4 linked regions of the Homo sapiens genome follow. The protein of the gene in region 1 interacts with the protein of each later gene in a pairwise test. Each region holds a gene or a part of one and is shown in the gene's direction. Other genes may lie near its edges.

Evidence for each region.
Region 2: the proteins of MISP (region 1) and VBP1 interact in binary tests that used the Homo sapiens proteins (3 or more experiments, as listed by UniProt).
Region 3: the proteins of MISP (region 1) and HSF2BP interact in binary tests that used the Homo sapiens proteins (3 or more experiments, as listed by UniProt).
Region 4: the proteins of MISP (region 1) and PIH1D2 interact in binary tests that used the Homo sapiens proteins (3 or more experiments, as listed by UniProt).

What each region holds. Positions count from the first base shown.
Region 1 is NC_000019.10:746,962-754,134, forward strand, and holds the start of MISP (mitotic interactor and substrate of PLK1), read left to right. Parts: upstream 1-4,150; 5' UTR 4,151-4,210; intron 4,211-7,173. UniProt on the Homo sapiens protein: Plays a role in mitotic spindle orientation and mitotic progression.
Region 2 is NC_000023.11:155,219,447-155,226,469, forward strand, and holds part of VBP1 (prefoldin subunit 3), read left to right. Parts: intron 1-736; coding exon 737-861; intron 862-7,023. UniProt on the Homo sapiens protein: Binds specifically to cytosolic chaperonin (c-CPN) and transfers target proteins to it. Binds to nascent polypeptide chain and promotes folding in an environment in which there are many competing pathways for nonnative proteins.
Region 3 is NC_000021.9:43,607,488-43,614,510, reverse strand, and holds part of HSF2BP (heat shock factor 2-binding protein), read left to right. Parts: intron 1-563; coding exon 564-681; intron 682-4,521; exon of another isoform or gene 4,522-4,624; intron 4,625-7,023. UniProt on the Homo sapiens protein: Meiotic recombination factor component of recombination bridges involved in meiotic double-strand break repair.
Region 4 is NC_000011.10:112,071,005-112,078,701, reverse strand, and holds the start of PIH1D2 (PIH1 domain-containing protein 2), read left to right. Parts: upstream 1-4,684; 5' UTR 4,685-4,722; exon of another isoform or gene 4,723-4,772; intron 4,773-5,496; 5' UTR 5,497-5,527; coding exon 5,528-5,704; intron 5,705-6,943; coding exon 6,944-7,067; intron 7,068-7,418; coding exon 7,419-7,664; intron 7,665-7,697. Other genes in the region: uncharacterized protein NKAPD1, read right to left, coding at 387-487, 3,059-3,127.

The sequences.
Region 1 (7,173 bases):
GGAAAGAGGGACAGGGGCCCCCACCCGTCACCACGCCCCAACACTCCCCCCGAACCAGAGCCGTGCACTTGTGCCTGGTAGGAGAGAGACAGGACAGACCCGCTTTTCCCGAGACAAGGACCCCCCATGTCACGGCAGCTTCACAGACGCGGCTCGCGCCCACCGGGGTCCTGGCGGGTGGGACCCGCAGCCTCCACGCGGCCCAGGCCAGCCTGCCACCCTCTGGGCCTCCTACCTGTGCCTTTCTCTGAGGGGACACCCCGCCAGAGAGGGCCCCGGGAGCCGGGGGTGGGTACTGAGGCCTGCTCAGGCCCTGGAAGTGAGGCTCTATGGGGTTCCCTGGCCAAGGCGCTGGCCCCCCAATCTCAGGCAGTTGGGGTGAGGCCGTGCCTCTTTGGGGGCTAAAGGTCTTGGGTGGAGGACAGGCCCCTCTGCTGTGCCCCTATGCCCTGTGTGGGCCCAACCAGTGGACAATGGAGTCTGGGGGAGGGGGAACCCCGGGGACATGCCCCCACCCGGGAGGGGCCGGTAACCCCTGGGCTATCTTCTAGACGGGGCGAACCAGGGGTCATTGACCTGCCCCCTGCACAGGGCAGGGACCGAGTGAGCCACTCCTTGTCCCGAGCTCCCGCCCCCACTGGGCCCTCCTTCCTCCTGGTGCTAATTTGGGGACCCCAGGGGCCGCCCCCGGCCTCTTCTCCATCCTGCTTGGACCAGGGTCCTGGGTCTTCCCAACCATACCCCGAGATCAGGCCCCACCTGCCAGCTCTACTGGGCTTGGAGCACGTCCGGGCAGTGGAGGGAGGGACACAGCCTGGGACAGGAAGCCTCTTGGGTTGGAGCAGGAGACCCTCATTTGCCACCCAGACCAATGTGAGCCTGCCCCCAGCCCCCTCTCATTGGAAGTGGCAAGGGGCTTCCCTCCTGGGGGCAGCTACACTCGTCCCCAGAGGCACATTCGTGCACATTCTCACAGACACCGTCTCACACGTTGGCTTTGGACAACCAGGCCCCAACTTGGTCCCTGCCCTAGGGACCTCCAGCCTGGTGCCCAGTGCTCAGGCCACCTCCTGGTCCAGTCACCACCTGCAGCCTCGGCAGGGCAGGTACAGGGGCCACCTCGGATGGGAGCCTGGGTCCCTGCCTCCGCTCTGCCCCTGGGTGGCTGGGAGGAGAGGCCCTCTCGGGGGTGACCTGGGCGTCAGCCGTGGAACCCCCTCCTCCTCCCTGGAGTCTGCCTGAGTCCCTCGAGCCGCGAGCCTTCGCTGAAGTGCCCTTGCTATAACCCCCTCTGCTTCTGGTGTGTGACGAGGCCCCCGATGTTCTTGATTTTCCCAGAGAAGCAAATAAACAGCGTGAACAGCCCCAGTTCCTGGAGTTCTTGCCTTTCAACCTGGCGAGGAAGGCGTGGCCAGGCCAGGGGGTGGGGCCTGCCGGCCTTTGAGCCATTAAAGGGAGGCTGAGCAGGGTTGCGGTGTGCTGGCTTCACCTGCCTGCACCCGCTCACCCTGAGCGCCTTGGGGTGGTGGGAGGCGCTGGAATCCCCACTGTGCAGGTAAGGCCTGGCTGTAAGGGGCTGCTGTGGGGGGGCAGGACTGGCTTCCCGGGGGGCCCTCGGGTTCTGCGGCCGCCCCGTCCTGTCCTTTGTTCCTCCCTTTGCTGGGCTCACAGCCCCTGGGTGATGACAGAGGGTCCCCTGGACACCCACAAGCTCTGTAGAGAAGCCGGCCCCTGGGAAATACACAGGAGGCCTGGGGAGGAGGTGTCTGTAGAGACCAGTGTCATGCTCACGGGAAGGTGCTGCCCCGCCAGCCCCACTCTCTCACGCTGTAGTCTTGGAGAAGTCGCTGCCTCCTCTGGGCCTCAGTTTTCCCATCTGTAAAATAAGCCTTCGTGGCCGGGCACGGTGTTTCACACCTGCAATCCTAGTACTTTGGGAGGCCGAGGTGGGCGGATCACAAGGTCAAGAGATCGATACCATCCTGGCCAACATACTGAAACCCTGTCTCTACTAAAAATACAAAAACTTAGCCGGGCGTGGTGGCTCACGCCTGTAATCCTAGCTATTCAGGAGGCTGAGGCAGGAGAATCGCTTGAACCTGGGAGGCGGAGGCTGCAGTGAGCTGAGATCGTGCCACTGCACTCCAACCTGGGCGACAGAGCGAGACTCTGTCTCAAATAAAATAAAATAGGCCTTCGGAGCCCTGAGTGGGAGGCCAGCCTCAGCCTGGGCGTGGGACGTCTCCACAGTGCCCCCAGCTCATGGGCGATCCAGCCTCCACCCTGCTGGGGCCTCAGTTTTCCCCGATGAGGTGGTGAGTGTGGTGGAGAGCACTGCTGAGGGAACTCAGGTTCCAATTCCAGCCTAAACCCCCGCCATTCCTGAGGCGCGATTTTAAGCTTTCCGTACCTCCGTTTCCCTATCTACAAGCCAGGGAGAAAAGGACGTGAAGGGGGTGGCGGGAGGCGGCGGTGGGAGGCGCCGTGAGGCCGCGCACCCTGAGCTTTCACACACCCAGCAGCGTTAGGTGCCACGCTGTCCTTTGGGGGCCCTTTATCCAGATTTGTCCTTAAACACCCCCATCTTGGCCAGGCGCCGTGGCTCGCGCCTGTAATCCCAGCACTTTGGGAGGCTGAGGCGGGGGCATCACCTGAGGTCAGGAGTTCGAGACCAGCCTGGCTAACGTGGCAAAACCCTGTCTCTACTAAAAATACAAAAATAGCTGGGCGTGGTGGCTCATGCCAGTAATCCCAGCTACTAGGGAAGCTGAGGCAGGAGAATTGCTTGAACAGGGGAGGTTGCCGTGAGCCGAGATCGTGCCACTGCACTCCAGCCTGGGTGACAAGAGCGAGACTCCGTCTCAAAAAAAAAACACAAAAAAAGCACCCCCCTCCTGAGCAGCCCTGCTGGATTCGTAGCTGGGGGCCTTTTTACTCGAAGAAGAGACTGAGGTTCAGAGGGGCTCCACAAGCAGCCCCTCTGGCGTAGGTCAGGACAGAGCCCCAGCCTGGGGAACTGAAGTCCCTGCCCCCTCAGCTGTGTTCCCTGCCCTCATAGACGGCGCTAGGCCCAGTGGCCCGACTTCCCCACAGATGCTGGGCTCCCCACAGTCCCAGCAAGGCCTCTGCACCTTGACTAAGAATCCAGGAGGACCATGGGCGCCTGAGGGCCTCTGCGTCCCCATCTCTCGGGGTGGCCTGGGTCTTTTGACGGCCTCGTGCGGTTCTTTTTTTTTTTTTTTTTTTTTTTTTTTTGAGTTGGAGTTTTGCTCTTGTCGCCCAGGCTGGAGTGCAGTGGTGTGATCTCGGCTCACTGCAACCTCCAACTCCTGGGTTCAAGTGATTCTTCTGCCTCAGCCTCCCAAGTAGCTGGGATTATAATAGCGTGCCACCATACCCCGCTAAATTTTGTATTTTTAGTAGAGACGGGGTTTCGCCATGTTGGCCAGGCTGGTCTCGAACTCCTGGCCTCAAGTGATCCGCCCGCCTCGGCCTCCCAAAGTGCTGGGATTACAGGTGTGAGCCACCAAGTCCGGCCCCCTCGTATGGGTTTTTATGTGGATGGGGCCTAGGGAATTCCTCCCAGCAGCCCTGAGGGAGCCCGGGCGTGATGTTCCCCCACGTCCCGGAGGAGAAAACAGGGCTAAGAGAGGTCAGGTGGGATCAGAACCCAGGCCACACCAAACCCCCCCGAGTCTGCCAAACCTGGTTTATGCAAGAAGGGGGCCATCTAGGGGAGTTGCCCCAAGGGGTGGGCTGGGCCAGAAGGCACGGACGGGATTGGGACTCAGCCCCTCCGGCCCCCCAGGAGACACAGGCCACTGTGCACGCTGAGCTGCTGTGTGGCCCTGGACACCTGCTGACCCTCTCTGAGCGGTGCTGAGAGGCGGTGGGAGGGCCAGGCAGCCAAGGGAGGTTTCGGCTGAGTTCTGGCTCCTCGGGGCCACCTGGAGGCCCTGGGGGTGGAGGGGCAGCCGGCAGCGGGCACGGTGCCCGCCCTTGCCCAGCCTGGTATCCTCTTTCTCCCTCCTCCTCCTCTGGACTTTGTTTCCTGATCCCAGGTGGGGCTGGGGGGAGGGGGCACACCTGCCTCCCCTGGGTGGGGCCTCTGTTCCCTGGCAACCTGGCGGGCAGGGCGGAGCTGGGAGGCCTCTGTGCCCATCGAGGAGTCAGAGTGGAGGCTGCAGACTGTGGAGCCGGGAGCCGGCAGGTGAGGCTGGGGGCGCCCCGGGCCGGGCCGGGCGGGGATCCTGTGTGGGGCGGTTGGATCCACATTTGGCGTGGGAGCGTCATGTGTCTGTGGGCGGGGTCTGCTTGCCTGGCGGCACTTGGGATCCAGGGAGGCCCCCTGCCCCACCCCGTCACCCTCGGAGCCTCCCTGAGGCACCTTTCCCTCTGCCCCCGCTAGGTACTCTGGGGCCTCAAGGGCACCCACTGGGAGAGCAGAGAGGCCCTTGTCCCTGAACTCTGCTGGGGCTTTTGAACCCCAAATCCCAGAGCCCTCCAAGGGAGGGGCCGGGTTGGCACCCCCATGGTCAGAGGCCAGAGGGGCCCCTCCATGGTTCTGGGAATTCCAGAGGCTTCTGGAGAGATGCTTATCCGTCCCACCAGGCCCCTGACTGGGAGGCTCTGGGCAGTAAACACCCCCGTGGGGCTGGGGGCTGGTTTGGGGACACGGAGGAGGGGTGGCTGAGTACAGGCGGAAGGAGTCTCAGGCCGGGGCTGGGGACTTGGCCTGGGTCCTCGGGTGGGGGTGAGGTGGTAGCCTGGGATCCCGGGCAGCCAGCAGGGACTCGGCCCAGCGTCTGCCGGTGGAGCTCCGCCCAGGAGCCCAAGGAGCTGAGATGACTCAAGGGTGACTGCAACCCTGAGGGATGGGAAAAAGGAACGGGGCCCTCCCTTCTGCATGGCCTCCTTGTCTGAGTCTCGGCCCCACAAGGGAACCTTTGCCCCTCACATAGAGCCAACTGGCTGATGAGGAAGGAGGTGTGGCACCAGGGTCCATAAACCCAGTTTCATTCTGGTATCAACAGAGTTCAGGGTGAGGCTGGGAGGAGCAACCCAGGGGGCTTCCTGTAGGAGGGGGTGATTTGGAGCAAAGTCTGAAAACTGGCTTCAGACACTTGCTCTGTCATCGCTGTGTGACCTCAGATGAGCAGGTTCTCCTCTCTGGGTCCCAGCTCCCTCTCTCGAAAACCGGAGTCGAAAACGGTTCCAAGGTGTTGCAGGAAGAGTCTCAGGACGCCGAGGTCCTTAGCCACCGCCGGGCCTTGCAGGGGCCATCTTCCGTCCTGGGGCTCTTCCCCCGAGGGCAGCGCCGCTGCCCAAGAATGCCGGCCATGAGAGCCGCCGTGGATCCAGGGGTTTTTTTGGCCGACACAGTGAAACCCCATCTCTACTAAAAATACAAAACTTAGCCGGGCGTGGTGGCGGGCGCCTGTAGTCCCAGCTACTTGGGAGGCTGAGGCAGGAGAATGGTGTGAATCCGGGAGGCAGAGGTTGCAGTGAATGGAGATCGCGCCACTGCACTCCAGCCTGGGCGACAGAGGGAGACTCTATCTCAAAAAAAAAAGCGGGGGGCGGGGGTGGGCACTGAGGCACAGGCAGCAGGGGAGGGGGCCCAGTGGCCTTGAACCCAAGAGCTGGACCCCAGGCCCCACCCGCTGGCTTCAGTGAATCACTGGGGAGGAATGAGCAGAGGAGGATGCGTGCCTTCATCCCCACCCAACCCCGACCCCACTGGGAGACCCGGCACCTGCTCGAGGCTGGGCGGACAGCTCCCTTTCTCCCGGAGTTGACGTCTGATGTGGGTTATAAATCCCGCTGTGTAAACGTCTGTCCACTCACTGGGCAAACATTCCTACACCCGCCCTCCCCGGGGAGCTCCAGGGTGCAGGGCGTGGACCTGCCCAGCCCTTCAGGGCCAGAAGGCACGGTGGAGCCGGTCTGCATTCCGCAATGAGCCCGACCCCCACGTCTGAGCAGCTGGGATGAGTGGTGTTTGCCCAGCCAGTATTTATTAGGCGCCTGCTGTATACCAGACTCTGGGCTGCAGGAAGGGTGCTGACCTGTGGCCACAGCAGGCGAGAGCGAGGCCTGGGCTGACGGTTTCGGGTGGGAGAAGGCAAGGCCTTCCGTGAGCTGGGCAGGCGGCGTCCACGGAGGAGGAGGCCTCGGGTCAGGGGAGCCATCTGTGCGTCACGCTTTGGGAGGAAGCTCAGCTGTTTGTGTGGGATTTATTCACCAATGCCGCCTGGTTTTCAATGTTTCCCCTATTTTAGTTTCTGACATTTGATACGCGCGGAAGATTGCATGACACATTGCGTGTAGTTTCAACACGGCTCCCCACGGTCTCTCCACTTTATGCTGTTTGATGCCACTTTCCAGTTCAGAGAGGGGCTAAGTTTTTCTTTTTTTTTCTTTTTTTCTTTTTTTTTTTTTTTGAGGCGGAGTCTAGCTCTGTCACCAGGCTGGAGTGCAATGGTGCGATCTCAGCTCCCTGCAAGCTCCACCTCCCGGGTTCACAGCATTCTCCTGCCTCAGCCTCCTGAGTAGCTGGGACTACAGGCGCCCGCCAGCACACCCGGTTAATTTTTTTTGTATTTTTAGTAGAGATGGGGTTTCACCATTTTAGCCAGGATGGTCTCGATCTCCTGACCTCGTGATCCGCCAAAGTGCTGGGATTACAGGTGTGAGCCACTGTGCCTGGCCGACCCTGTCTGTTTAAAAACAAAAAAAAATGCTGCTGGTTGGTGTAAAGGCAGCAGATCTAAATAATAGCCTTGGTGGCCCGGGAGCGACAGTCCTGCTTTGTGGGGGTTTGTTTTTCTTTTGAGACAGGGTCTTTCTCTGTCACCCAGGCTGGAGTGCAATGGCACAATCTCAGCTCACCGCAACCTCCACCTCACAGGTTCAAGTGATTCTCCCACCTCAGCCTCCCAAGTAGCTGGGATTACAGGCCTGAGCCCCTGTGCCCAGCCGACAGTGCTTTTTTTAGGAGTCAGGAGCTCAAGCTTTTGAGATCCCTGTGTCTTCAGGTGAGGCTTCCTTTCCTCAACTATGAAAGATGATGTCTGCTGGACACGGTGGCTCACGCCTGTAATCCCTGCACTTTGGGAGGCCGAGGCAGGCGGATCACCTGAAGTCAGGAGTTCAAGACCAGCCTGGCCAACA
Region 2 (7,023 bases), on another chromosome or scaffold:
TTTACTTTGTTTCAGTTATTTGATACTGAAGGAAGCATTTGTGGATTGCCTTGGGAACCCAGTAACCATATTTAGTATGATTTCTATGGTAAAACTTGTTGAATTAAAAATAAGTAATAAAATTGATAATCTTGACATGCAACCTGTAAAATCATTTTGTGAATAGGATGCATGAATAGGCAATGTATTTGATTGTTAGTTTCATATTTACTACTAGGGATGCATGGGAAATGCATAAAGTGGTGGGCAAGGTCATTCTTCTTTTCCTATTTTTGAATAAAAAATGAAGAGGAAAGTGAAAGAATAAATTAGCTATATAATATATATGTACCATCTGAAATTGTCTCTAACTTTTTATAACTACAGGTTGAGCATCCTAAATCTGAAAATCTGAAATCCAGAATGCTCTAAAATCCAAAACTTTTTGAACACCAATATAGTGCTCAAAGGAAATGCTCATTGGAGCATTTTGGACTTTGGATTTTTGGATTGAGGATGCTCAACTGGTATAATGTAAATATTCCAAAATCTAAAAAAAAAAAAAAAATCTAAAATCCAAAACAATTCTGGTCCCAAGCATTTTAGATAAGGGTGCTTAACCTGTACTTTTAGTTAAAAACAAACCTTTGGAGAAAAACAAAGCTTTTTTTTCTTCTATGTTTTAAAAACAAAGCAGTCAAAAAATCTGAGTGGCATGAATTCTAAAATTTGTAAAGTATTATTTTTGATATTAAAGGAAGATGTAGATTCCTTCATGAAACAGCCTGGGAATGAGACTGCAGATACAGTATTAAAGAAGCTGGATGAACAGTACCAGAAGTATAAGTTTATGGAACTCAACCTTGCTCAAAAGAAAAGAAGGTAAGTGTAAAAATTTCTAAGTTTTGAAAATCTTATATGACTTGAACTTTTAAAAAATTGAGATATAATTTACATATAATAAAATATTCAGATGTCAAGTGTTCAGTCCTCCAAGGTGGCTGTACCATATGAAATTCCCACCAGCAACGTACAAGAGTTCCAGTTGTTCCGTATCCTTGCCAACACTTGGTATTGCCAGTCTAAATGTGGTTTTGAAAACATAATAGAATGGTTGTTAAAGACTGTATTCCAAAGCTTTCAAAATCATAACGTCTTATATGTCTAGTTCATCCTTCTAATTTTGCCAGTGAGATTAGAGACCCACAGAGTCTGGGCATAAGACTTAATTAGTTATGAAATCCCAAGATTTCATAACTAATAGGCATAGGAAAAAAGCTATCCTTACTCTCAACTCTTTATTTCCCTACATTATTTTATATAGCTTATAAAGTCAATTCACTGTAATAAATATTTATAGATCTCTGTTTTGTGCATGTGCCAGCATTCTTCTGTAAGATAAATATTTATGGAATGCCAGCTAGATGCCACATACTGTTTTGGGTGAAATAACATCCAGTATCTGCTTTCAACAAGGACACAGGACTGGGCATGGTGGCTCAAACCTGTAATTCCAGCACTTTGGGAGGCTGAGGTGGGAGGATCACTTCAGTCCAGGAGTTCAAGACTAGCCTGGGCAACATAGGGAGACCCCCGTCTCTACAAATAATTAAAAAATAATTAGGCTGGGCCCGGCGGCTCGCACCTGTAATCCCAGCACTTTGGGAGGCTGAGGTGGGCAGATTGCCTGAGCTCAGGAGTTTGAAACCACCCTGGGCAACATGGTGAAACCCCGTCTCTACTAAAATACAAATAAATTAGCCAGACGTGGTGGCATGCGCTTGTAATCCCAGCTACTCGGGAGGCTGAGTTGGGAGAATTGCTTGAGCCCGGGAGGCGAAGGTTGTAGTGAGCCGAGATTGTGCCACTGCACTCCAGCCTGGGCAACAGAGTGAGACTCCATCTCAAAAATAATAATAGTAATAATTAGCTGGGTATGGTGGCATGCATCTGTGGTCACAGCTCCTCTAGAGGCTGAGGTGGGAGGATCGCCTGAACCCAGGACGTTGAGGCTGCAGTGAGATGTGATCATGCCCCTGCACTCCAGCCTCGGCAAAAGTGCGAGACCCAGTCTAAAAAGCAAACAAACCACACAAAAAACTAGGGACACAGTTTGGTGGAAATTATAGGTATATAAATAAAATTAGCACACAAAGTAGAACAGTAGAGGTACAGGGGGATGGTAACTCATTACTTTGTACCAAAGCACCTCATTAACCTGGAGGGGCCAAGGAGGTTCAGAGGAAGCTTCTAAGAGGAACAGATAGCTGTGTAGAATTTCAAAGATTAGTTGTGAGTTTGGAGGCAGACTAAAGTGAGGAAGGGGTAGTCTGGGCCTAAGGCACCATTTATGCAAAGGTACAGAAGTTTGTAGGTATATTTTCTCATTTGATTTTGGTGACAGTTGTACAAAGTTGAATATGTACTGAGTATTAGATGAGATGAAAAGTCATTGACATGGAAAGATGGAGAGTGTTAATGGACAGAAGCAAGATAGAAAACATTAAGAACAGTGTGCTCTCGTTTTGGAAAAAAATGTATGTATGCACAGGAATATCTGGAGAAATCCACACTAAAGGCATATTAACAGTGGTAATCTCTGGGTAGTTAGAATATGGCATTTTTCTTGTTTTTGCTTAGCTGTTTTCTTAATTTTTTACAATGTACATGTACTGCTTTTGTGATAGTAAAAGTTTATTTGAAAAAGAAAAATAAAGCCATTGGATTTGAGATCACCTACAGGGAGGTTACAGATAGAGAAGAAAATGTGCCTTGGGGCGGGGTGCAGTGGTTCATGCCTGTAATCCCAGCACTTTGGGAGGCCAAGGTGGGCGGATCGCTTGAGCCCAGGAGTTCAAGACCAGTGTGGGCAACGTGGCAAAACCCTATATCTACAAAAATTAGCTAGGTGTTGTGGTGCATGCCTGTAGTTCCAGCTACTAGGGAAGCTGAGGTGAGAGTATTGCTTAAGCCAGGGAGGTTGAGGCTGCAGTCAGCTGTGAGTGTGCCACTGCACTCCAGCCTGGGCAACAGAGTGATGATACCCCGTCTCAAGAAAGAAAAAAAGGAAAAGAAAATGGGCCTTGGGACCAAGTCCTGGGAGAGGGGGAAATTTGCGTATCAAACTTAAATTGCTCTTCTAACTAGTAAATTAATGATAGACAAAAACAAAAAAAAGAAAAAAGTTATATTGCTAACTCTACAACTGTGGTATGTAGCAGGATACTCACTCTAGCTTAACATATGGTCTAGGCCTAAATGTGGGGAGAAGGGGTAAAAATTCAAAGCACTTAGGAAACATCAGTGAACGTTGGTGTTCTGGATGAGAACAGTGTTTGTCTAGTGTTTTAAAAGAGAATGGTAGAGTTGGAGATAGTGAGTTAGGAAAATTTTCTTGAGTTTTACCTATTTTAATAGTGGGTTGGTCATTTTTTTGAGACAGGCTTTCTCTCTGTTGCCCAGGCCAGAGTGCGGTGGTGTGATCACAGCTCACTGCAGCCTTGACCTCCTGGGTTCAAGCAATTCTTCCATCTCAGCCTCCCAAGTAGTTGGAGGGCTACTTTTCTCTTTTTATTTTTCTGGAATTTCTCTCACTCCTATGATGTCAGCTATGCAACAAAACTATTTTTGTGTCATGATCTAGTTGTTTTGCAGCAGATGGCTCTATGTAGTTTACATGCTAGCCTTTTTGTTTTTTTTTTTTTTCAATTTGCTATTATTTTATTTAGGATTTTTGAATTTCTGTTCATAAGTGAGTTCAGCCTATTTCTTTCTTTTTTTAATTTTTTTAGTATTGATCATTCTTGGGTGTTTCTCGGAGAGGGGGATTTGGCAGGGTCATAGGACAATAGTGGAGGGAAGGTCAGCAGGTAAACATGTGAACAAAGGTCTCTGGTTTTCCTAGGCAGAGGGCCCTGCCGCCTTCCGCAGTGTTTGTGTCCCTGGGTACTTGAGATTAGGGAGTGGTGATGACTCTTAACGAGCATGCTGCCTTCAAGCATGTGTTTAACAAAGCACATCTTGCACCGCCCTTAATCCATTTAACCCTGAGTGGACACAGCACATGTTTCAGAGAGCACGGGGTTGGGGGTAAGGTTATAGATTAACAGCATCCCAAGGCAGAAGAATTTTTCCTAGTACAGAACAAAATGGAGTCTCCCATGTCCACCTCTTTCCACACAGACACAGCAACAATCTGATCTCTCCTTCCTTTCCCCACATTTCCCCCTTCTCTATTCGACAAAACCTCCATCGTCATCATGGCCCGTTCTCAACGAGCTGTTGGGTACACCTCCCAGACGGGGTGGCGGCCGGGCAGAGGGGCTCCTCACTTCCCAGACGGGGCGGCCGGGCAGAGGCACCCCCCCACCTCCCGGACGGGGCGGCTGGCCGGGCGGGGGCTGCCCCCCACCTGCCGGACGGGGCGGCTGCCAGGCGGAGGGGCTCCTCACTTCTCAGATGGGGCGGCTGCCGGGCGGAGGGGCTCCTCACCTCTCAGACGGGGTGGCTGGTCAGAGACGCTCCTCACCTCCCAGACGGGGTGGCGGCGGGGCAGAGGTGCTCTTCACATCTCAGACGGGGTGGCTGGGCAGAGGCGCTCCCCACATCTCAGAGGATGGGCGGCCGGGCAGAGACGCTCCTCACTTCCTAGACGGGATGACGGCCTGGAAGAGGCGCTCCTCACTTCCCAGAGTGGGCGGCCGGGCAGAGGGGCTCCTCACATCCCAGACGATGGGCGGCCAGGCAGAGACGCTCCTCACTTCCCAGATGGGGTGGCGGCCGGGCAGAGGCTGCAATCTCGGCACTTTGGGAGGCCAAGGCAGGCGGCTGGGAGGTGGAGGTTGTAGCGAGCCGAGATCACGCCACTGCACTCCAGCCTGGGCACCATTGAGCACTGAGTGAGCGAGACTCCGTCTGCAATCCCGGCACCTCGGGAGGCCGAGGCTGGCAGATCACTCGCGGTCAGGAGCTGGAGACCAGCCCGGCCAACACAGCGAAACCCTGTCTCCACCAAAAAAATACGAAAACCAGTCAGGCGTGGTGGCGCGTGCCTGCAATCCCAGGCACTCGGCAGGCTGAGGCAGGAGAATCAGTCAGGGAGGTTGCAGTGAGTCGAGATGGCGGCAGTACAGTCCAGCCTCGGCTCGGCATCAGAGGGAGACCATGCAAAGAGGGCGAGGGCGAGGGTGAGGGTGAGGCTAGCCTTTTTCTTTGTATGTGTTGTAAATCTTGCAGCCTGTCATTTAACTTTACCCTTCAAGCTGTGTAAAAGTTCCTTAGTATTTCATGTGTTAATCTCTTTTTCGACACTTGAATCTGAGATCTTTTATCTTTCTTTAATTGGAAATTTTGTGATTATCACTTTTTCTATCGTCTGTTAATTTTTTTTCCTCTTTCTTTCTGGGATTCCTGTTTACAGATGTTGACACTTCTAATTCTGCCTTCCATTTATTTATATTATTTCCCTTTTTTCTGTCTTTGTCATTTATCTTTTGGCAATTAGATGGATAGCCATGAGTTCTTTGTTTCAGCTGTTAAGATTTTTATAGCTGGTAGTTCTGGTTGGTTCCTCTTCATATTACCAATATCCTTTCTTTTCTCTTTGTGGTATCTTTAAGTATTTAATGTATAGTTTTATCTTTTGGTATTTGTTAATTTTGTTTCATATGGTAGAGGTTGTTGAATTTATTGTCTTTATTTATTATAATGATCAAATTATAATGTCTTTTCCCTGTCAGCTTAGATTCCCTCAGGGATATCAGCTACTTTGGCCAGTAATGTACGTGGAGGTGGGGGTAATTTAAGTCACTCCTGGTGGGTAGCAGTGGCGCTACCTCGGCTCACTGCAACCTCCACCTCCTGGATTCAAGGGATCCTCCCGCCTCAACTTCCCAAGTAGCTGGGATTACAAGCATGCACCACCACGCCCAGCTAATTTTTTTGTATTTTTTTTTAGTAGAGACTGAGTTTCACCATGCTGGCCAGGCCGGTCTCGAACTCCTGGCCTCAGGTGATCCACCCGCTTCGGCCTCCCAAAGTGCTGGGATTACAGGCGTGAATCACTGTGCCCAGCCAAGCTACTTTCTCTTCAGGTGAAGCAGGGTAGGGAGGAGTGTATTGCTTGGGCATGTGCTGTGTCATTGGTGGTCTGGTTCCTAAGTTAGCTAGGGCTGCATCTGATTGATTCATTAATATGCTTTATAGCATATTACATATAATATTTATATATACAGAATGCATCTTAAAAGTCATTTACATGACAAAAAATCTTGATCTGAACATACTCCTTATGTTGTGTGTGTATCACATATTTTACAAATGTATAACATCTTTCTGTTTACCTATATGAACATATCATGCAAAAATAAGCAAACTTGAGCAATCTATGGCATCCAGATTGAATTGTAGTGAAAAAATGAATGCTAGGTGTTTCTAGATTATTCACTGGACTGTATTATCAAATGATGACACTATGTTTTTTTCTTAAGCAGCAGGCTCATTTAACACATTTCTTGCCAGGTCAGTAGCACAGGGTGTAGTAAATTTGCCCTGCCAACCTGCTGCACACATGGAGTGACTTCTTTTATGTGACGCAATAAGTTCATTTTCATTGTTGTGTTTATATTTTGTTTACATTTTGGTCTCTAATAATATTTAGTAAATTTACCTCGAAAGAACCAGAGCTTCGTTTTTATATCCTTAGTCTGTTTTGCTAGAAATTACATTTGACAGAGACCCTAGAACTGTTTTGCATATATCTCCATGCAAAACACATGCATCTAATTACCATAAAGAGCTAAACCCCAGTGACAAAAACGGTATCATTGTTTTCTCTCTTTAATTGACTGAATGTTTTTAGCATACTGTTTTTCTCTTATGTTCTTGTCAGTGAGGTTGATTGCATTTGGGAGTCACTTACTAGCATTTTGCTAGTAGCTATCATATAACTTATCCATTAAGTCGGATCAGTTGTATCATGTCCATCATTGTTTTTTTAAATTTCTTGTGTTTAAATCAGTGATCCATTTATAATTTTAAGAACGA
Region 3 (7,023 bases), on another chromosome or scaffold:
AGACTTGGTTAGATTCCAGGGCTCTGTTTCACTCTTTCGGCGCTTGCTAATCACACTGCACATTACTTGATATTTCAGTAACTCTTGTGGTTGTCAGTGATTCTTTCTGAGCTGTCATTTTTGTTGATAATTTTTTTTTTTTTTTTTTGAGACAGGGCTTTGCTCTGTCACCCAGGCTGGAGTGCAGTGTCATGATCATGGCTCACTGCAGCCTCTACCTCCTAGGCTCAAGCAATCCTTCTGCCTCTACCTCCTGAATAGCTAGGACTACAGGTGCACACACCGTGCCCGGCTAATTTTTAAATTTTTTGTAGAGATAGGGTCTTGCTGTGTTGCCCAGGCTGGTCTTGAACTTGTGGCCTCAAGCAGTCCTCCCACCTCAGTCTCTCAAAATGTTGGGATTACAGGTGTGAACAACCATGCCTAGCAATTTCATTTATAAATGCCTCATTTTCAGCTGTGTTTTCATTAGGTCTTTTAGGAGAAAATACTCTGTTCTGCACAAAATTGTCTAGGTTCTGAGTCATAATGATCTTGATGTTTTGTTTCATTTTCTGTTGCAGATGTTGCTGCTATAGCATGTGGTCGTGAATTCTTGGTTAATTCAAGCCGGGTGCTCTTGGACACCATATTGCAGCTTCTGGGAGACTTGAAGCCAGGACAGTGTACCAAACTCAAAGTGTATGGTGGATAATGTTAAAAAGTTAATTCTATTTACATATTAATTAGACTGTGCTGATTGGGCCTCTCTTCAAGTAAACACAGTTAATTTTGGTGGTAGTTTTAAAAACTAGAAGAAATAAATTCCTGGAGAAGTTAAGGGCGTGCACTGTCTCTTAAATAGCATTTTAGAAAATAAATTTAAGGAAGGAATGTTCTCACCTTAGAGCAATCAGTGAGTCCCAGTATTATCACATGGTACTTCATGGGTATGTCAAAATGAATTTAAATAGGTATCTGTCTTCCAGCTACTAAAATCTGTATTTGTTTTCTATTTTTATGTAACAAATTATCACCAACTTGGTGGCTAAAACAACACCATTTATTATTTCATAGTTTGGCAAGTCAGAAGTCTGAGTGGGTTTGAGAGGTTCTCTGCATAGGTCAAAAGTGAGGTGTTTTCCAGGGTGGGATCTTTTCAGAGAATCTAGGGGAGGAATCTGCTTCTGGGCACTTTGAAGTGGCTGGTAGAGTCCAGTGTCTTGGTTTCTAGGAGCGAGTTCCCTGTTTCCCAGCTGGCTGGTCAGCTGTGGGTCAGCTGCTGAGGCAGCTTGCATTGCTTCTCACAGGGACCCCATCTTCAAGCCACAGTCGCTCATTGAATCCTTCCCACGTTTCCAGTCTCTGAGACTTCCTCTTCTGCTACCAGCAAGATGAAACTCTCTCTGCTTTTATTCTTTTGTTAAAAAGTTTACTTCAAGAAGGCAAAAACTCTGCTTCTTATAGATTTGTGTGTTTAGATGAGGCATACCTGGATAAACTCCTTTTGATTAACTCTTGAGTCAGCTGGTTAGTAACCTTAATTACATCTACAGAATCCTCTTTTCCAGGCAATGACATAATCAGCGTGTGATAATTTATAGTCCCAGAGATTAGGGCAGGAAATCTTGGGGAGAGGGGCAGTGTAGGATTCTGCCACTCACACTGTTCGTTCTGAGTGTTGCCTTTGACTTCTTAGAGCATCTTTATTTTTTAATTATTTTTTTAAAGAGACCGAGTCTCTACAGACCTTGCCTAGGCTGGCCTCAAACTCCTAGGCGTTCAAATAATCCTTCCACCTCAGCCTCCTGAGTAGCTGGGACTACAGGCATGTGCCACCATCCCCTGCTGTGGAGCACTTTTTTTTTTTTTTTTTTTTTTGAGACGGAGTCTTGCTCTGTCACCCGGGCTGGAGTGCAGTGGCGTGATCTCGGCTCACTGCAAGCTCCGCCTCCCGGGTTCACACCATTCTCCTGCCTCAGCCTTCCAAGTAGCTGGGACTACAGGCGCCCGCCACCACGCCCAGCTAATTTTTTGTATTTTTAGTAGAGACGGGGTTTCACCGTGTTAGCCAGGATGGTCTCAATCTCCTGACCTCGTGATCCACCCGCCTTGGCCTCCCAAAGTGCTGGGATTACAGGCGTGAGCCCCTGCGCCCGGCCTAGCACTTTTAAAAAGTAAGAGCTTCTGTAAAGTCTGTGCCAGGTGCTTCCAACACCTGTGTCATCCTGGCCTCGGTGTCTCTTGATTGTTTTTTCCCATGAGAGTTGAGATTTTCCTGTTTCTTCATATGCCAAGTAATTTTGGATTTATCCTGGACATTTACGTGATCACTGGTCTTGTTTAAATCCTTGGGAAATGCTGGTGTTTATATTTTCACAGGCAGTCAACCCCTTTGGGTCAGATTCCAGCCAGCCTTTTCTCTGTTTGGTTTCAGTGTGTCGTCCTGTTTTCAGAGTCTTTACAGTGCTATTGGAACTGCCCCTCGTGAGTGCCGCCCAGTGGCCAGTCTGAGACCTGGGTGGTCTGGATCTTAGGTTCAGAGTCTTTCAGATACTGTTTATGATCAGATCCACACAGGCACAACTTGGGATGAGGCCAGGAATTTATAAACAACTTTTTGGGGTCACTTTTCTGAGCTGTTAACTCTCTGGGTACACTTTAGTTACCTGGGACTGCCTTTTTCAGTCCCCCACCTGGAATGCTGGGGCTTCATATACCCTGCTGTGTCCAAGTGCCTGCAACTCTGCCCTCATCCCGCCCTGCGGCAGGAGTTGAGAAGCTCTTAGAGCTTTCAGGTGTAAGGAAAAAATTCCTTTCCCCCAGAGTTTGAGTTACCTGGGGGATGTCCCCACTGCTACCGTGCTTGGTTGCTGGCAGGAGACCCCTTTCCCACTCCTTGAGCCTCACTAGAGACCTTCTCCTGGTGCTCTCTGTGTGGCTCAGGGCTACTTTTGGGTTTTGGAGCTCCCTCGAGTCCAGGCCAGGGACACTAAAGGAAAAAGTGGTAAACTCTCTGCTGGTTTAGTGGTTCTTAAAATTTTGATCTTCTTCCCCTATCTGCCTGCTACTGTTTACTTTTCAGAGTCCTCAAATAGCTGCTTCATGTATTCTCTTTGGAATTTATAGCTGCATTCAGTGGAAGCGAGACTGGAGGGTGTGTTCAGGCCATCTTATCCAGAACCAAGCTTTCTAGTCCATTTTAATATTTTGTGCTAACAAATATCTATACATACATAATACATATAATACAGTGTAACATATATGCAAAAAAAATTTTTTTTTTGAGACAGAGTCTTGCTTTGTAACCCAGGCTGGAGCACAGTGGTATGAACATGGCTCACTGCAGCCTCGACCTCTTAGGCTTAAGTTATCCTCCCAGCTCAGCCTTCTGAGCAGCTGGGACCGTCAGTGCATGCCACCATGCCTGGCTAATTGTTAAATTTTAAAAATTTTTTTGTAGAGACGGGGTCTCTCCATGTTGCCCAGGCTGGCATAGATGGTTTTGTTTGGGGGTATAATTTTACAAATTGCTTGTGGATCTAGTTCATTCCTTTTAAGTACCTTGCATCAAAGGAGATGTAATATTTGGATTATCCTTCCCTGACTGATGGGCATTTAAGTTACTTTCGGGTTTTACTTGACAAATATAATGCCGTAGTGAGCATCCTTGATAAACTCTTTGCTAACCTGTCTGAGAGTTCTCCAGGAGTTTTCCCAGAGGAAATATTTGAGAAGTAGTACATGGACATTTTCAATTTGATAAGATACTGCCAAATTGGTCACCATAGTGTACATTTCTACCTGCACCATGTCAGTGTTCGTGTTTCCCACGTCCTTGTCAGCACTTTGCTATTTATTATATTCCTCTAAAGAGAAAAAATATATGTGTATATGGAGAGAGAGGTGCCGGGGGAAGAGGGGGAGAGACAGGGTCTTGCTGTGTTACCCAGGCTGGAGTGCAGTGGTGCAATCACGGCTCACTGCAGCCGCGACCTCTGGGGCTCAAGTGATCCTCCCATCCCAGCCTCCCAAGTAACTGGGGTCCCAGCTACTCTGCACGCCACCATGCGCAGCTAATTTTTTTTTTTTTTTTGGTATTTTTTGTAGAGACAGGGTCTCACCTTGTTGCCCAGGCTTGTCTCAAACTCCTAAGCTCAAGTGATCCACCTGCCTCAGCCTCCCAGAATGTTGGGATTACAGCGTGAGCCACTGGACCTGGCCTTAAAGAGTATTTTTATCATCCACCTATCATCTGTCTGTCTTTGTCCTTCTCTCCCTTCCTTCAGATTTAGATTGCCAGTGAGGTTGAGGCTCTTCACATGTTTGTACCATTCCAGTTTTTCCTTTGAGTCACCTGTCTGTGTCTTGTGCCCACTTTCCTGTTGGGCTGCATTTTTCTTAGTGATCTGCTGTAGGTCTTTGTGTGTTCTGGATACTAATCCATTGCCTCTTTTGCTTCTGTGGTCTGTACAAGGTCCATATTTATGGGCCAGCTAAAGTCCCCCTTCAACTTCCAAGGCAAAGCTGTGTGTGAGGGCTGGGTCACTTCTAGCCTCTCCGGTTCCAGTCCCTGGAGCTCTGTGCCTTTGGGTCCTGGTGAGCTCTTGTTGATTGCAGTGGGAGATGGGGAGAATTGCCTTCAGAGCCATTCACTGACTTTCTTGGCAGTCTTCCATTTGGCCACTGAGCAAAGCCGCGTGTTTACCCTCTATCCTGACTCGGGATCTCAGCATGCACCAGCCTGAGAGGGGCCTTCCCCCTGGGATCTTTGGCTGCCTTCCAACATGCTCATGGCTTGTTCCGTCTCACCACATCTCCAAGGCACTCTTCTCCCCTCTTTTCACCTCCCCCACTTCACTAACGCCCACCCTTGAGTCCTCTGGAGCCCCAAGACCTTTCTCATACTATAAATCAGCCTCTTTTCTTCCTGGCCTCCCCCTGCCTTGTGTATAGCTTGCCTCTCTCTGGGGAACTACACTTTCACTGCCACTTTCATGATCGAAGGTCACTCATTTTCAGCAGTTAGTACCTTAGACCCAGAGATAGGGGTTATTTTTTTCCTAGTTGCCCATTTTTTAAAAAAATTTAAATTTAAATTTTAGATTCAGGGGGTACATGTGCAGGTTTGTTACAAGAGTATATTGCGTGATGCCAAGGTTTGGGCTTCTGTTGAATCTGTCACTCAGATAGTAGATATAGTACCCAATAGGAGATTTTTCAGTCCTTGTTCCTCTCCCTCCCTCTCTCCTTTTGGAGTCTCCAGTGTCTCTTGTTCCCATCTTTATGTCCGCGTATACCAAGGGTTTAGCTCCCACTTATAAATGAGAACATGCAATATTTGGTTTTCTACTTCTGGATTAATTCACTTAAGATAAGTGGAGGCAGCCTCCAGCTGCATCCATGTTGCTGCAAAGGACATGGTGGTGGTCTTTCTTTCTGGCTGCGAAGTATTCCATGGCTTGTATGTACCACATTTTCTTTATCCAATCCACTGTTGATGGACACCTGGGTTGATTCTATGTCTTTGCTATTTTTGTTTTGTTTAGTTTTGTTTTTGAGACAGGGTCTGGCTGTTCCATTCACACTGGCATGCAGTGGTGCTATCTTATCTCACTGCAGTCTGAAAATCCTGGGCTCAAGCAATCCTTCTGCCTCGGCCTCCCAAGTACTTGGGATTACAGGCATGTGACATCATGCCTGGCTAATTAAAAAAAATTTTTTTTTTTTTGGTAGCGATAGGGGTCTCACTTTCTTGCCCAGGATAGTCTTGAACTCCTGAACTCAAGTGATCCTTTCACCTCAGCCTCCCAAAGTGCTGGGATTTCAGGCATGAGCCACCACTTATCTTTGCTATTGTGAGCAGTGCTGTGATAAACTTATAAGGGCAGGTGTCTTTTTGGTAGAACAATTTTATTTTCCTTTGGCTATTTACCAAGTAATGGGATTGCTGGGTTGAATGCTAGGTCTGTTTTTAGTTCTTTGAGAAATCTCCAGACTGCTTTCCATAGGTGCTGAATTAATTTACATTCCCACCAACAGTGTATACGAGTTCCCTTTTTTCAGTGGTTTTGCCAACATGATGTTTTTTGACTTTCTAGTAATAGCCATTTTGACTGGTGTGAGATAGTACCTCATTGTGGTTTTGATTTGCGTTTCCCTGATGACTAGTGATGTTGGGCATTTTTTCATGTTTCGTTGGCTGCTTATATGTTTTCTTTTAAGAAGTGTCTGTTCTTGCCCTTTGCCTGCTTTTTAATGAGGTTGTGTGTTTTTTCTTGTTGATTTGTTTAACTTAACTTCCCTATAGATTCTGGATATTAGACTTTTGTTGGATCCATAGTTTGCGAATATTTTCTCCCATTCTGTAGGTTGTCTGTTTACTCTGTTGATAGTTTTTTTTGCTGTGGAGAAGCTCTTTATTTTAATTATGTCCCAATTGTCAATTTTCGGTTTTGTTGCAATTGCTTTTGAGGACTCAGTCAAATTCTTTGCCTAGGCCGATATCCAGAAGACTATTTCCTAGATTTTGTTCTAGGACTTTTATAGTTTGAGGTCTTACATTTAAGTCCTTAATCCATCTTGAGTTAATTTTTATCTGTGGTTAGAGGTAGTGGTCCAGTTTCATTCGTTTACATATGGTTAGCTATTTTTCCCAGCACCATTTATTGAACAGGGAGTCCTTTCCTCATTGCTTATTTTTGTCAATGTTGTCAAAGGTCAATTGGCTGTATGTGTGCAGCTTTAATTTCTGGGTTCTGTATTCTGTTCCATTGGTCTATGTGTTTATTTTTGTACCAGTGTTATGCTGTTTTAGTTAGTGTAGCCTGGTAGTATAGTTTGAAGGTGGGCAGTGTGATGGCTCTAGCTTTGTTCTTTTTTCTTAGCGTTGCTTTGGCTATTTGGGCTCTTTTTTGGTTCTATAAGAATTTTAGAAGAGTTTGTTCTAATTCTATGAAAAATGATGTTGGTAATTTAATAGCAATAGCATTGAATCTGTAGATTGCTTTGGGCAGTTTGGACATTTTCATGATATTGATTCTT
Region 4 (7,697 bases), on another chromosome or scaffold:
CCTGCAGTTCCAGCTACAAAAAGAAAAGCCTGAAAGAATGAAAGATTAATAGAGAATAGAATGACTGATCAGCTTAGTGACCACAAGATTCCAGTATAAAATCTTCAGTTAAAAGCTATCAGGTAAGGTTAGAATCCACAGAACCCTACACATTCATAATTGTTCAGGTAGAATTTTTTAACTCTCCATTGTAAATAAGTACAAAGAGCAGGGCCATATGCGTCACAGCCATTATCTTTATGCCTGGGTCTAGATTTACGAAAGAAGGAAGGCTTAAGGACTCACAGAACTGAATTTATCCTTAATATACCAAAGTATTTTTAAACAAAAGTTGATGATTCTGAAAAAGATGAGAATTATTTTAGTTCTCAGAGCTGCAACTTCACCTTGAACTGCTGGGTAGCATTTTCCTTTTGGTCCCCCGGTAAGCATCTTCCATCTGTTTTTCCAGTTCTCTTATTTTCCACATATCTGATTCCTCCTGAATCTAGAATTTTTAAAAAGGAAATAAAAATAAGTTACTAAAAATAACTTTACATTACAGAAAAGTAACTAACTGGCCGGGCACAGTGGCTCACACCTGTAATCCCAGCACTTTGGGAGGCCAAAGCAGGCAGATCATGAGGTCAAGAGTTTGACACCAGCCTGACCAACATGGTGAAACCCCGTCTCTAATAAAAATACAAAAATTAGCCGGGCGTGGTAGCATGCACCTGTAATCCCAGCTACTCAGGAGGCTGAGGCAGGAGAATCGCTTGAACCCTGGAGGCAGAGGTTGCAGTGAGCCGAGATTGCACCACTGCACTCCAGCCTGGGCGATGGAGTGAGACTCTGTATCAACAAAAAAAGAAAAAAAAAAAAAAGCAACTAACTGAAAATACAATCTGACTAATTATTGGGCTACAGACTGGGCTATGATCAGGAACCTGGAAAACAAATTGGTTTCTCTAGAAAGTGGCTGAACAGTCCAATCCAGTAAATCTCAAATATGTGGAAATCTTCCCCAATAGAATTTTTAAACCGCTGCACAGACAAACATCACCTTATCAATCTTGCAATTATGCTGCGATTAGCAAATGATAATGCCACATTTCCAAAATGCAATATGATTTTAATTATATCATCTCAATTGAACCTTAAGCAATCTCATGAGGAAAATATAGCAGCTACCATTATTACATTTTACTGTAAAGAAACAAAAGCTCAGAGATTTTAACAAAGTCAAAAAACTAGTAAGGACAGGTCTTTAAACTCCCTAAGCTAAATCTCTTCTGGTAATATTATAATTTTTGTCAAAAATAAAATAAAATAAAATAATCAGTATGGCTGCTAGGGAATTTCTTGAAAAGCAGAATGTGATTACCCAAAGAACACATTTTATTTCTAAGTCTTCCTGCATAATTTCATTAGATCTGTGCTAGATTTATCTTTTTCTAGCTACCATTTTAAATCTAAGCTTACTATATAACTAGGGGCAGGTTAACATAATTGCATAGGCAGCTCGGGTAACAGTTTTACCCTCGCCCATAATTTTAAAAATCAGGTGATATGATAATAATAATATGATCAAACCAAAAGTAGTACAGTTTACTGAAGAAAACTAAACCAGGGGCCTTGGCCCTCTTTTCATTATATGTGCTCTCCTAGGTGACCTCATCTACTCTCATGACCTCTTATCATCAACCTATACATCAATAATCCCGAAACCTTTATGTCCAGCCCCAACTTTTCTCCTCTACTCCAAGTCTGAATTTTCAACTGCTTGGACATCCTATAAGCACCTCACCATCAACATGTTGAAAACCAAACTAATTACCTTTCCTATCATAATTGTCCCATTTTTTGTTCTTTATCTCAATTAACAGAATTGTCATCATCTACCCAGTCACATAGGTGGTTACACAGTTGACCTTGAACAACAGGAATCTCAACTGTGCAGGTCCACTTATCCTCAGATTTTCTTCCACCTCTGCCACCTGTAAGATAGCAAAACAAGTCCCTCTTCTTCCTCCTCAGCCTACTCAATGTGATTTTCTTAATGAAATGTTGTTTTCTCTAGCTACTTTACTATAAGAATACAGTATATAATACATGTAACATAAAAAATATGTGTTAATCCACTGTTTATGGTATCGCTATGGCTTTCAGTCAGTAGTAGGCTATTGGCACTTACATTTTGAGGGAGTAAAAAGTTATACATGGATTTTCGACTATGCAGGGGGTTGATGCCCCTAGCCCCTGCATTGTTCAAGGGTCAACTGAATTAGATTCCATTCTTATCATTATAATCTAATTAGCCACCAACTTCTTTGGATTCTATCTCCTAAATTCCTCTTCTTCATCCCTGCTGTCACTAATTTCATGCGAACCCTCATCATCTCTCACCTGTAATACTGCAATTGCCTCCTAATTACTCTCCCTTCTGTATCTCCCCATCTGATTCATTCCCTACCCAGCTGACAAACCATCTTTCTAAAATATAACTATGATCATGCCACACCCTGTTTAAAAACATTTGATGGCTTCTTTATTGCCTAGAGGAAGAAGTCTCAGCTCCAAACATCACAATCCAACTCTAATTACCACTGAGGCCTTATCTTCTGCCACTATCCCCTACCTTCCCTGCTTTCTGGATAAATTTCTTGCCATGCCCCAAGTGATTAATGCTCTTTCTCGTTGCCATATTAATGCATGATGCTGTCTATCCAGAATGATATTTCATACCTGGTAAACGTATACCTATTCAAGAACCAGTTCAAAGATCAGCAGCTGAAATACCACTAATTCTGTAAAATCTTTTCTAATTCCCCAGTGTAGATTTTATTATTTCCTCCTTAGTGCTCCAAAGCACTTTGCAAATATCTCTGTTATACAGTACTTATCAAACTGTATTATAATTATCTATTTTATTCATCATTTTATTTCCTACTGTGTACGGAAGCTTCCAAAAACTAGATGACAAGAATATTCTTTGTATCTCCCAGTTGTTCCAAAATAATGCTTGGCACACTGCTTGCCTTCAGTAAGCGTTGAGGAGTAACTAGGTTGTACCTCCCACCTTATTGTGAGCATCTGTGTGCCGGATGACATTCCTCAGGAGGACCTTCCCCAGTGGAATCCGGGACATTCTTCAATCTGAAATGAATCAACAAATAACGTTTAGTAATAATTTCTGTTATTACTTTATCTTTTCTTGAAGTTTTATAAAGAAGCATATGAGGTACAGGAAAGATCACTGAACTAGAAGTCAGAGATTCTAAAGAATAGTTTTCCCTTTACCATTAAAAGAGGGAAATGCCTAAACACACTAATGTGAGATGAAAGGAGATAATGTACATTAAAGTTCTTTGAAAATGCACAAGACTACATAAAATTAAGTGCTTTCATGAGCACCATTTTATTTAATCCTCATAACTACTTTTTATATGAGGCAAGTATCTCCATCCCTATTTTGTAGATGAAGTTCCCTTAAAGCTGTAACGTCCCAAGCCACATAGTCCCAGGCAAATGATGTATGTCACTGTCTAAATTAAAAATCAAACCTCCAATCCCAATATAGTTTGCACTGAAGCAAATACGTAGATTTGAGAGTGTCAGGAACCACGGGTGTCAACAGTAACAGAAACTGATTACTCAAAACATCAAATGCAAAGATGTCCTAAATTTCTCCATTTGGGGGCATTTTATTTCCTACTTGCTACGGAAGCTTCCAAAAACTAGATGACAAGAATATTTTCGTGTGTAGCTAGCAGGAGCTTTGTGCAACCACCCCAACGCTCACTCACCCCTTGATCCTGAGGAAATCAGGCATCTTGCTAGTGAGACGAAGAACCACTCCATTACAAGATCTCCTCCGACCCAGGAAGCCAAGGAGTCAGGGCTCAAAGGCAGCTCTGCAGCTTCACCCGAGTCCTTCGTGAAAACGCAGCCTTCCCACTGGTTACTCTGCCCTCACCTGTGGCCCAGGCCACTGCCGCGTTTCCCCCAGCCCAGACCGACAGGCAGATCTCTCTCCCGGACTGAGGCCGGAGGCTGAGCCGGGGCGGAATTCGGACAGCCCGGTTGACCTGGGCATTCCCCGCTCACGCTCCTCTAGGACGAACCCCGGGGGTAAGTTTCACTCCCCAGAAAGGCTGGGAACGCTTTGGATGGCTACGGCCTTCGGTTGGGCCCCAGAAAGTATCTAGGGAGCCTGAAGCGGGGGTTGAGGTTTCCAAGTGGAAGACAGAGGAAATATCCCCATCTTTGTCACCGGGATCCCTGTTCCCCAGCGGCCTCGGAGCTCCCGGTAACCTTCCCTCCAAACGCCCTCCCCACACAAATACACACAAACACACCCATACCGTGCGCCGCAGCCTCGCGTGGCGGGGGGTAGGGGGGAAGAAGTGGTTTGGGAGAAAAAGGAGGAGACTTCCTTTTCAGGCCGGAAGTCGTGCTCCTGAGAAATCGTCCCACCAACAGGCAGCCCAGAGACTCCCACAAGGGAGGGTTTTCAGGACACTCCAGAGGTTGACGGGTGCAGAAGGAAGGCGGGCGCTTTCCTGGAAGAGAAGTGGGTCAGGCCCAACTGAAAAGCAAGCCTGGCACCAGAAGGGGGACATTCCGGAACTAGATATGAAGAGACTTTTCTCCCTGAAGTTCCCCGGACCCAATTAGATGTTGTACCCAGGCTGGTTACCCTGGTAACAGGCGTCGCGGTTTGTCAAGGAACTGAGAGAAGAGGTGGGTTTGCCAACCTATAGAATGATTACCCGTTAGAACTGAGAGAAGAGGTGGGTTTGCAGACCTATGGAATGATTATCCGTTAGTTAAGTTTCCCGTTTAGCATAACCCTTACACAGTAATTGAAGAATCTAAACCTCTTTTCCTCATTCTAAAGATGCTGTGGGACACCTCTCCAATGGGAGAAGAGGCTAAGGAGATTTATCTGAAGACGTAGAGAAGTGTCCCAGCCTCTCTATTAGCTTACTTAATCTCGCAATAATCCTATGGTAGAGGTATTATCGTCTTCATTTTGAACAGAACATTAATTGCTCAAGGTCACAGAGCTAGTGAGAGATAGAACTAAGACCGGAATCTAGGCATTCTGGCTCACAAGTCCATGCTTTGAAATACTAAACTATACTGAGGATTAAGGAAGTCTTATGTGGCCCTCACCCCACACCACACCTCTGGCAATTTCAGAACTGGGGAGCCACCAGTCAGGTGTTGGAACAAGAAGATCAGGAAACCCAGACTTAAAATGATTACTCTGACTTGTCAGGGTCCAAATAGAAGTAAGGCCTTATCTGAGAGGACAATGTGAGAATTTAGGAAGAGGTACTAGATAATTAAAGAATAAGGAAAACATAAAGTGGTGCTGATCCACAACCTTTTAGACACAAATGCTGTCCTAACTTCACCAAAACAATTCCTGACCCATTCCACCTCCCCAAAGCAGAAATGAATCAATAATTACACAGACAGTTTTCTTCCTGAAGTCGTGTTTTTCCACAGGCTTAAGAAAATTATTCACCACTCATAAGTCATGGAGACATCCTCAAAAGGTCTGCTTACCCAAGTTACTCAGTTTTGGAACCTCCTAGATGATCTAGCTCAGAGTGACCCTGAGGGCTATGAGAAGTTTATTCAGCAGCAGCTGAAAGAAGGGAAACAGCTCTGTGCTGCCCCAGAACCACAGCTTTGTCTACAGACCAGGATTCTGGTATGTCGAGTTGGTGCCAGGGATGGGGAGGTCTTGAATGAAATGATCCCAGAATAACCAGAGAATACTTTACACTTAGGTATTGCTAATTTTTTTTGTTTTTTTTTTGTTTTGTTTTGTTTTGTTTTGTTTTTTGAGACAGAGTCTTACTTTGTCACCAGGCTGGAGTGCAATGGTGTGGTCTTGGCTCGCTGCAACCTCTGCCTCCCGGGTTTAAGCGATTCTCCTGCCTCAGCCTCCCAAGTAGCTGGGATTACAGGTGTGTACTACCATGCCCGGCTAATTTTTGTATTATTAGTAGAGGCGGGGTTTCACCATGTTGGCCAGGCTGGTCTTGAACTCCTGACTTCAGGTGATCCACCTGACTCAGCCTCCCAAAGTGCTGGGATTACAGGCATGAGCCACTGCGCCTGGCAGACTTTTTTTTTTTTTTTTTTTTTTTTTTTTTGAGATAGGGTCTTGCTGGCTCTGTCGCTCAAGCTGGAGTGCAGTGGCACAATCACAGCTCACAATCACAGCTCATTGCAGCCCAAGCGATCCTCCCACCTCAGCCTCCCAAGTAGCTGGGATCACAGGTGGGCATCACCACACCCGGCTAATTTTTAAATGATTTTTGTAGAGACAGGGTCTCCCTATGTTTCACAGGCTAATCTCGAACTCCTAGGCCTCAAGCAACCCTCCTACCTCAGCCTCTCAAAGTACTAGGGTAACATACGTGAGCCACCACCCCAGTCTGGATTCCTAATTAAAAGCCAGCAGCCTTGGGGAAATCAAATAACAACAGTATAATCAAACGCAGTTTTAATACATGAAATGACTTACTTGGAGCCTAAAATTCTTTCATTCCTGTGGTGAGTGGCTTTTAGGATATTATTTTTTAAATGTTTTTGTTTTTGTTTTTTTTGAGATGGAGTTTCACTCTCGTCACCCGGGCAGGAGTGCAATGGCACAATCTTGGCTCACTGCAACCTCCGCCTCCTGGGTTCAAGCGATTCTCCTGCCTCAGCCTCCCGAGTAGCTGGGATTACAGGTATCCACCACCACACCTGGCTAATTTTTGTATTTTTAGTAGAAACGGAGTTTCACCATGTTGGCCAGGCTGGTCTCAAATTCCTGACCTCAGGTGATCCGGCCGCCTTGGACCCCCAAAGTGCTCGGATTACAGGCGGGAGCCACCATGCCTGGCCTTAAATGGTTTTAAACTAGGTTTTGAGATGTGCAAAATTATTTGCTTTCCAGAAACCAAAAGAAAAAATACTTTTTATCAACCTGTGTCAGTGGACAAGGATCCCAGCTCCCCAATCAACCACTCATCCAGTACCTCTAACTGTTGGCAAACCAGAAGATACAACTGAGATATCAGGTACAAATAATTGAGAGAAAGCACATTGTAAAAATTTTATTAGGAATGGACAAGATCTTACTTGGTTGAGAGCATTTCAAGTAAAACTCTTTATTTGTTGATAATATAATTACAATTAGTGTATCTTTATGCAAATTTAATACTGTTTAACTTTTGTAATAAGGTGAGCTGTTTTAATCCATGCAAAAGTGCCAAGAAATGTCATAATTGCTGTAGCACTACTGTGATTACCTCTGAAAAATACAGGAATATTCTCTAGCTTTATCAGGAATATGGTTTAATATATTGCCTGACAGTATCATTAGTGCAACAATTTTTCTTCATTTCATACCCTTTCAATTACACACACAGATGCTTACACAGTCATTGATGTTGCCTACAATCCTGATGTTCTTCATGCAGCAGAAAAGGACCAAGTGAAAAAAAATCAGTTAATTCAGATGGCCATGAAATGCATTGAGGAGAAATTCCAGTTCACCCTCTCACACTCTTACCATATTACCAAATTTAGAATAAAAGGAAGCATTCAAAGAATGAAACAAAATCTGATGGGAATCCAAACTGATTCCATAGATTTAAGAGAAAAAATGAGAAGGGGTAAGTTGATGATTGTAAATGGAAAATTAAACT